Regions from separate parts of the Homo sapiens genome. Here region 2 is linked to region 1. Evidence: fine-mapped expression QTL. Tissue or cell type: whole blood. Region 1 holds a variant in brackets; the other region holds the start of a gene. All regions are shown on one strand. Distances are between the middles of the regions.

Evidence for each region. PIP is the estimated chance that this variant, and not a neighbour inherited with it, causes the effect.
Region 2: it holds the start of ATP1B1, and the variant in region 1 is fine-mapped to the expression of ATP1B1 in whole blood (TOPMed, PIP above 0.99).

The regions. Positions count from the first base shown.
Region 1 is chr1:169,042,329-169,046,676 of GRCh38, forward strand. The region is part of intron 3 of LINC00970 (long intergenic non-protein coding RNA 970); the gene reads right to left. Among named protein-coding and RNA genes, the nearest start is that of LINC00970, 43 kb to the right of the region's middle. RefSeq lists enhancers at 2,031-2,290, 2,843-2,972. The variant G/A (reference allele first, on the strand shown) is at 2,185.
Region 2 is chr1:169,104,318-169,108,461 of GRCh38, forward strand. ATP1B1 (ATPase Na+/K+ transporting subunit beta 1) reads left to right here and starts at 2,373. Exons shown (of 6, transcript NM_001677.4): 1 at 2,373-2,609. The coding sequence starts at 2,513. It overlaps LOC101928596 (a long non-coding RNA gene), which reads left to right. Exons shown (of 2, transcript NR_135799.1): 1 at 1-176; 2 at 393-590. RefSeq lists enhancers at 790-1,363, 1,854-2,148, 1,937-2,509, 2,510-3,082 and a silencer at 1,421-2,340.

The DNA of each region.
Region 1 (4,348 bases):
TAAAATGGAAAATTTTAAAAACTAGCTCAAAAATGCATAAGAAGAAATCTAAGTCAAGGTATCTCCCCTTGCTGAGCCCACATCTGGGAGGCAGCATGAAGAAATGAAATGAACAGGAACAACAATGGAAAAAGAACAGGCTCTGGAATCAAGCAGTCCTGGATGTGACAGGCAATGGGAACTTAGACCATCACATAAGTGTCAAACACTGAGCTTTCTCAACTGCAAGACACAGAAAACAATATCCACTTCATGGGTCTATTGTAAGCATTGGCCATGATATATTTATAGTGTCTGGCACAGAGTAGGTGCCAAAATTTGGTAGTTATTAATAGACAATTCACTTAACTCTGAGCTTAGTTTTATTATGTATAACAGGAAGGCAATAATTCCTATGAGAGAATAGATATGAAAAGGATTTCTGAGCTTTAAAATTCTCTGAAGAGTCAATATTGTTATCAATAATTGGGAAGTCAATATATATAGATACAGAGCATTAGCTAATACATAGGTTACATAAAAGTGTATGATTTCTATCTCTGAAAATATGGTAAACCAGGGCTGCAGGGGAGAGGGGAAGGGGCAGGTTGCAGTGTTAAAAATAGTGGTCAGACAAGCACATGTATGTTAACTGCAGCACTATTCACAATAGCAAAGAAATGGAATCAATCTAGGTGCCCATCAATGATGGACTGGATAAAAAAAAAATGTGGTACATATACACCATGGAATACTATATAGCCACAAAAAAAGAATGAAATCATATCCTTGGCAGCAACATGGATGCAGCTAGAGGCCATTACCCTAAGCAAATTAACACAAGAACAGAAAACCAAATACCACATGTTCTCATTTATAAATGGGAGCTAAACATTGAGTACATATGGACACAAAGAAGGAAACAATAGACCCTGGGGCCTACTTGTGGGTGGAGGGTAGGAGGAGGGAGAGGATTGAAAAACTACCTATCAGGTACTATGCTGATTGCCTGGTTGACAAAATTATCTGTACACAAAACCCCTGTGACGTACAATTTACCCACGTAACAAACATGCACATGTACCCCCTGAACCTAAAATACAAGTTGGAAAGAAAAAAGAATAGTAGTCAGAATAGGTCTCATTAAGAAGGCAAGACTTGAGCACAGACTTGTGGGAGGTGAGAAAATATCTGTGGGAGGGGCCTCCTGAAAGAGGGAAAGGTTAAAGCCAAGACCCTACAATGGGAGCGGGCCTGAGTGTTGAGGAGTGGCTCCAGGCCAGTGTGGCTAGAGCAGCACAAAGTGTAAGGAAGAGTGGTGGGCAAAAACTCAAAAAGGAAACAGCAGTCAGGAGATGCACGGCCCTAGTGCGCAATGTAAGGGCTTTGACTTTTACTCTCAGTGAAAACTATGACAGGGTTTTAAGCAGAGGAATAACATGACCTGACTTATGTTTTAGAAGAATTACTTTGAGAATAAAATTTCCAGTGGCAAGTAGAGAAGCAGGCTAACCTAAGCAAAACCCACTACAGGGATCCAGGTGGCAGATAGTGGCTGAAAGCCAAATTAGAAAGAGTTTAAGAGAAAAAATGGCACAACTAAGAGATTAGCACAGCTCTTGACTACAAAGCTGCAAACACAAAATTCAGTGCAGGGCCTGGAGAGTGCTCATGTGAGTGAGGGGCCCTGATGCTTAAGCTTTGTCAGCATCTGTGCACACCCACCTCTGTACAAGCCAAGGCCCCTGGCCTGGTCAGTTGGGTGGATGGTGAGGTGCTTACCAAGTTGGGTACCCAGGAGTAGATAAGAGTTTGCAAGCAGGAAGAAGACAGATCATGCATTTCACTGTGAGATTTTTGAGATTCAGAGGTCAGTGCAACATCTAAGTGAAAATGGCCAGGCTCTTTCTGCTCCTAACAATACTGCCAAGAGCTATCAGGATGACCTTTCTAAAAGGCACATCTGATCAAGTCACTTTCCTGCTTAAAAACCTCAGTGCTTCCCTTTGCCCATATTCCTTTGAAAAGAAACAGTTTCTCACAGTCTAGCCCTGGCCTGTCTTTCCAACTATGTCTTCCTCCATTCCATGCCTGGCACACTGTTCCCTCTGACTTGCAACTCCCTCTGTCTACAGTGTCCTTCTCTAACTACTAAACTCCTCCTCTCCCTACACTGCCCTGATCTAATAACTTCTGTGAAACCAC[G/A]TCCCCTCCTGCACCTTCTTCAAGGCAGGACTAACCACTTCCTCTCTGCTGACTTAAAGCCCTCTGTACACAGTTCCATGAAATCTGCACCCAGAAATGCGAACCCATAAGCCTGAGAGGCAGGGTTGACAGCGGAACAATTATGGGTTTTAGAATTAGATTAACCTGGGTTAAAACACACACACTTGCTTGCTGTATATAACTTTAAGCATGTTATTTAATTTCTCTAAGCTCAGCTTCTTATAAAGGTAATGCCTATTTTGTAGAATAGGTGTCAAGATTAAATGAGAAAATTTAAGTAAATCACCCCAGATAGGACCTGGCACACAATAGGTGTCCAAAAATTATCATTTCCCTCCAGACCCTGTTCCTCTTGGGCAGAAAATGTGTTTAATTTATATTCTATATGTCCCATTGTCACTGGTCACCCAGCACATAATAGATGCTTGATAGACATTAACCTGAATGAATGGACCCTGTCTTCTCAGAAACATTTACATATACGTTTTAGAAGTACATGGGTTCAGAGGTTAGGATAGAAATTCTAAAGTGGACCTTGGCATGTAAATCCCCTTGGGTCTAATATCAAACCAATTGCTTCCCCTTGGCAGCAGCAGCAGAGCCCTTCTGTGTCTCTGGGGAGCATTCAGCCATCCAGTCTGTGAAGATTTCTCTCATTGCTCTCCAGAGCTTCCGTTACATCGTGCTCTTCTCACTTCCTTCTCAGCTGTGCTCCCACTCCTCAGCCTTGTTTGTTCTGTTTTCCTCCGCCATTTTTCACCACACACCATATGGCCTTCCCTTGCCTGCCTTAAGCTTGGAACTTCACAGCCTTCTCCAGGCTTCCCCAGGGCAACCTGGGCCCTCTGGGCCTGCTGACCACCCCCTTTAACTAGCAGCCCTGCCCTGATGCCTACTTTGAAACCCAGCACTGTTCCTAAGGAGACGCAGGACACAGAGCCTTTTAGTAAATTCACTTCAGGGGCTGGTTCTGCCAGTTAACTATGAGCCTAGAGTGTTTTGAACAGGTGGTGATCTTCCAAACACAATGTGATCGTGTGTTTAATCTTAGAATCATGAGAGGCTAGTAGGGCAGATACAGAAAAACACAATTTTACCTATTTGTTTCAACCTCCTCCAGCATCCAGTGAGGCAGCCTCCTGGTGCAGAGGATCCTTGACAAGCTCTGGAGTCTCGTGGACACAAGTTTGTGTCCCAGCTCTGTGTCTCCCTAGCGGTATTGTATGTATGCTTCTCAAGTTCTCTAAACCTTAGTTTCTTCATTTGTGAAACTAAGATAACAATACCTGCCACACAGAGTTATTAGTTGATATCATGCGTTTATTTGTTATCTAGCAATACATAACAAATCAGCCCAAAACTTAGTGCCTTGCAAGAGCAATGCTGTTTATTAGCTCTTGTGGGTTTTGTAGGCCAGGAATTTGAGAGCAGCTGAGCTGAGCTAGTCTGAATCGGGGTCTCCCAGGTGATTGAGGCAGACTGGTCAGTGGCTAGAGCTGGGGTCAATTTCAAGGCTTCTTCATTCACAGGTCTTGTTCCCATGCTGGGAAGACAAATAGCTGGAGCAGGGGCTGGAGCAGCTGTGGCTCCCCAGGCACCTCCCTCTATCCCTTTGGGACCCACCACATGGTCCTTCTGCATGGTCCCTTCAAGGTCTCCAGATTTCTTATGAGGTAGCTCAGGGCTCCAAAGGCATGTATCTCACTTGAGAGAGAAACAGGTGAAACCATATCCTCTTTTCTGGCCTGGCTGGAAAGTCACACAGTGACATCACTTCCATTGCCTTCTATTTATTAGAAGCAAATCACTACCACCAGACTGTATTCTAGGAGAGCAGAATTAGACCGCTCCTTTTATTTGAAATAGTGCCGAAAATTTGTGGACATGCTTTAAAAACACCATAGTATGTGTGATGCCCAGTCCTCAATAAGTAGCATCAATTTTTTTTATGTATCAGGTGAGTTGAAAAATAAGACAAAAAAATGCCTCTGTGCCCTATCATTCCTATCTTCACTCTCCACAAACACACTCACCATGAAACAAGGTGAAAGCACTTAGCAATGTAGGCAAAGGTAAAAAGGAAGCATAAAAAGGGGAGGCAAAAACAATGATCGTTGACATTTATTGAACACTTGCTCTGTGG
Region 2 (4,144 bases), 62 kb after region 1:
CCCTCAGGACTTCATCTGAACCTGTGAAGAGTTTCCATGCAGGGAAGGGGGGATGAGTAGAGCTAGGGACCTAAAATTTGAGAGGGGAAGATATTCCCCAGTGGAAGACAGTAAATCAAAGACTAGAGACCAAGCATCAGTCTACTGGGTGTTTGCTACACCTCTGAAGAGCTAAGGTAGGACACTTGTTTTAGGAAAAAAGAAAATCTGTCACTGGAGACTCTCTTTATATATTTTGTCTTACCATATGCTTCTTTTGGAAGGGGGGTTGGGAATCAAGGTACAGGAACGGAGTGGGCACAAGTAAGGGCACCACCAACTCCCAGAACCGCCTCATCCCTTCCCATGCTACCCTTTCCCCACTCATCTCTTTTTGCTGATTCTGCCTACAGGTTTTCCCTCCTGTTACAGTAATGGACACTCAACAACACATACCCTTCCCAGCAACCTGTCCTGCTGGAAAACTACTCGATAAGGTAACTTCTGCCTGAAGGGGACCAGGGTCATCATACCCGCAAGTGCAGCATCTTCCTGCAGCTCTCATACTACCAAGCTGGGGTTTTTCCAACATAAACATTACAGGTGCTAAACGAGAGGTGGCTTCCTTTCTCAATAAGCTGTTCTCTCTCTCGGATGCCCTTGACAGAGCCCTGCAGCCTCCCCCACTGGGGCTTGGTGGATAGGTGGTCGCTTCTCCCCCGAATTTCAGGAATGTTTAGGTTTGCACAGGTCCTGCAGGCGAGCTTGGAGAAGGATTAGAAAAATGCTCATTCTTAATCAGTTCGGGCTTGTCTTTATGCCAGCGAGGTTGACCTTGGGGACAGAAGGGTGGCCAGGATAAGGACAAGCATCCTGGTATTGGGGAATTCTCTGATATGGGGCTGGGACGTCAAGATGGGCCATGATGGCCCCTGGGGATAGGGCTTCTCTGCAGTGGAAGCAGAAGCATCCCGGTGTTTTCTGCTGTGTCACTGTCCTCAGAGGGATGTATAAAGCTGCTTGGGGGCTCATAGGAGAGGGATGAAACCAAGAGTTTGGCTTTCCAGCAACAGCGGACAAAGAGTGGGAAGGGGTACTCTATGCCCCAGGTCTGCAACATCTTGCCCTATGCGCTAGGTTTTCCCAAAGGTCCTTTGGCTCCAAGAATTTTACAGCAGAACAAAGGGATCGATACCCCCAAGGGGGCATAAAAGCATGCCAATGAGAATACCCGCCGCCGACCGGGCACCAAGAAAGTCCTCGGTGGCTGGGTCACGTGCAGATATTGTTGCCTGGGGTCTAGACTGGCCTGAGTCTCAATTGGTTTCTACGGGACAACTCACTGCGGGCTACCGCCCTGGGTGGGTTTGGCAATTGTCCTGCTCGAGGTGGTTCAGGCCGCCCACAAGGGGCACAGCCGGGCAGTCAGGAACCGGGGCTGCCGGCTGGGCTGGCCTGCAAAGAAGAGGGAAGGGCCGGAACTGCAACCGCAGTGGCGGGGAGTGCGAGGGGGCGGCAGGTGCAGGAGCGGGAGGCGGGGCGGAGCTGGGCAGAGTCCTCGCCAGTCCGGCGTCCCGGAGTGACCTTCCCCCACCCCGCCAGCGCCCAGGAGGGGTGGACCCACAGCCCAGGGAGGCCGAAAGCGCGGGCGGGCAGGCAGAGGCGTGGAGGCTGGGCCAGGACTGCCGGGCTGGGGTCCTCGAGGCTCCGGGCGACCCAGGTGCGGATCCCCCAGCCACGGAAGGGGCGGTTCACGCCCAGCCGGGAGCTGGGAGGGGGCTGCGCGGCGCTGCCTGCGCGTCCCTCACCGCCGCCCCCGCCTCCTCCTCGCCCCGCGCCCAACGCCCCGCGCCCAGCGATCCAAGCGGCCCCTCTAGCCCCGGCGGCTCCTTTGTGCCGGCCCCGAACCCGCCCTCTCGGGCCGAGTCCCTGCCCCTGGCGCCGGCGATTGGCCACCGGGCCGCTAGAGGGCGGGGCGCACGGCCGCCGGGGCGCGGTATATAGTAAAGGTAGGGCGGGCGCAGCCAATTCCTCGGCTCCTGGCGGGAGTGCCGGTGGCGCCCCGCAGTCCGCTTGTCCGTCCTTCCCTCTCTGACTCTCCTACCCCGGGCCTGTCTCTGCAGAGGTCAGGGGAGGCGGGGGCCCAGCACACGTCCCCAGTGGCAGCGGGAGCGGCAGCTACGGGTTCGCGGAGCCCCCGACCCCCCAAGGGCTAGAGGAGCGCTCGGCGGACCAAAGAAAGCCCGCGAGCGGCTGCGCGCCCACCAATAGGTGCGGGGCTCGGAGCCGCGCAGCCTGCGCCGTCCCTCCCTCCGCCCCCGCCCCGCCGCCGCCGCCGCCGCCGCCTCCCCCTCCTCCTGCTCCTGCCTTGGCTCCTCCGCCGCGCGTCTCGCACTCCGAGAGCCGCAGCGGCAGCGGCGCGTCCTGCCTGCAGAGAGCCAGGCCGGAGAAGCCGAGCGGCGCAGAGGACGCCAGGGCGCGCGCCGCAGCCACCCACCCTCCGGACCGCGGCAGCTGCTGACCCGCCATCGCCATGGCCCGCGGGAAAGCCAAGGAGGAGGGCAGCTGGAAGAAATTCATCTGGAACTCAGAGAAGAAGGAGTTTCTGGGCAGGACCGGTGGCAGTTGGTGTAAGTACGGGGTCCGCAGCTCCCGGCCGCCGCGTCTGATCTTTCCCGGGCGGCGCATCCCCTGCGCAGGGTCCGCGGCCGGTTCCGCACCCACCGCGCTGGCCGGGGTGGCGGGGGCGAGGGTGGTGGACGCTGCTGGGTCGCGCCGGCCTGGGCTTGCAGTCCTGTGCGGAATGCGGTGTCCCCAGAGTGGGGCGCAGGGTCGGGGCTGGAACACGACAGGCGGAAGGTTATGCATATCGTAGCGATCTTGGCTTGGTAATTTGCAGTCTTTCCTACCGTGCATCGGTTGAGCCTTTTACTCCTGGGAATAGTCAGGCTCTGCGAGACTACATTTGTCTCTCCCGTGTCCTGAGTCCTTAAAAAAAAAATGAGATCTGGGGTCTTGAGAGAACCTCGTGAGGTGATGGGATCTAATGCAGACGAGGTTGTGTGTTACAGCATCTTTCTTCTAGTCTAAATACGTATCTCAAAAGAGAGGAAAGAGAAGGGTGGAGAGGAATCCATCCACACTGTAGTATTTCACAGCGATGGCTAAGGATTTCCCTCCATGACCTCCCCTGGAGTCATCACCACCCAGAAATGGTTCAATAAGCTCCATTTCAGGACTCCGATTCTTAGCTTTGGCCCGAAACCTGGCAAAGTCTGGTTGTTTTCAAGGTCTACACAGACAGTTGTGGATCAGTCAGTAGGTTGGGTTGATTATGGTGAAGGGAATATAAACGCAGAGCAGCTGATCTTAAAATATTTTGTGCAGCCTGTTGCTTGGTTGGATAGACTTTTTTCCATCGAAAATTAGATTTCTTGTTTTCAGCCTCTCCGGAAAGGTGACTTTTTTTTTTTTAAAAAAAAGGTCATTTTGAAGGGCAGAGTTGTAGGCGAATCTATGAGTCGTGACTGCGTGAGGGAAGGAGGGAGGGAACTCCCCCTGCTGCATCACTGCCCCCTCCTCCTCCAACATCATCATCATCATCATCATCATCATGACCATCACCACCAACACCACTGGCACCACCACTGCAGTCATTCAGGGAGTCCTGAACAGAGGCCGATTGGTGTTCCTGCTTGGGAGGATCTGTGGGAATCGGCAGGAGAATGAGTCAGGGAAATAGTGCTTAGCTGACATTTTGAAATGGAAGAAGCTGGAATATATGAATTTTTGTAAAGAAAAAAAAATGCAGCCTGTGAGTCTCTCTTGATTGAAAATTAAAGGGTTAATAATGCATCACACTTCAAGGTTAGTCAAGGTGAAGCGTCTTTCCAAGGTGTTACTGGGAAGCATAGGTATCCCTGAGCCATGGAAAATGTAGTTCTTTAATGGCTTTTAGCTTTTGTTTTATATTTTATTTTGGGGAGACTTCTTCATTGAGATTATTGTCATAGTGTCTCAGGCATAAAGGTAGTTTCCTGTGTTTTACTGTGGAAAGGAAAACCTGAAGAACTGTGGGGTGTGTGTAGAATGAACAGCTCCCTGGCAACTCCTTGTAACTTGAGGGAGGCCTGGAAGGTGCACTGCGGTATGGGCACCCTTCTCC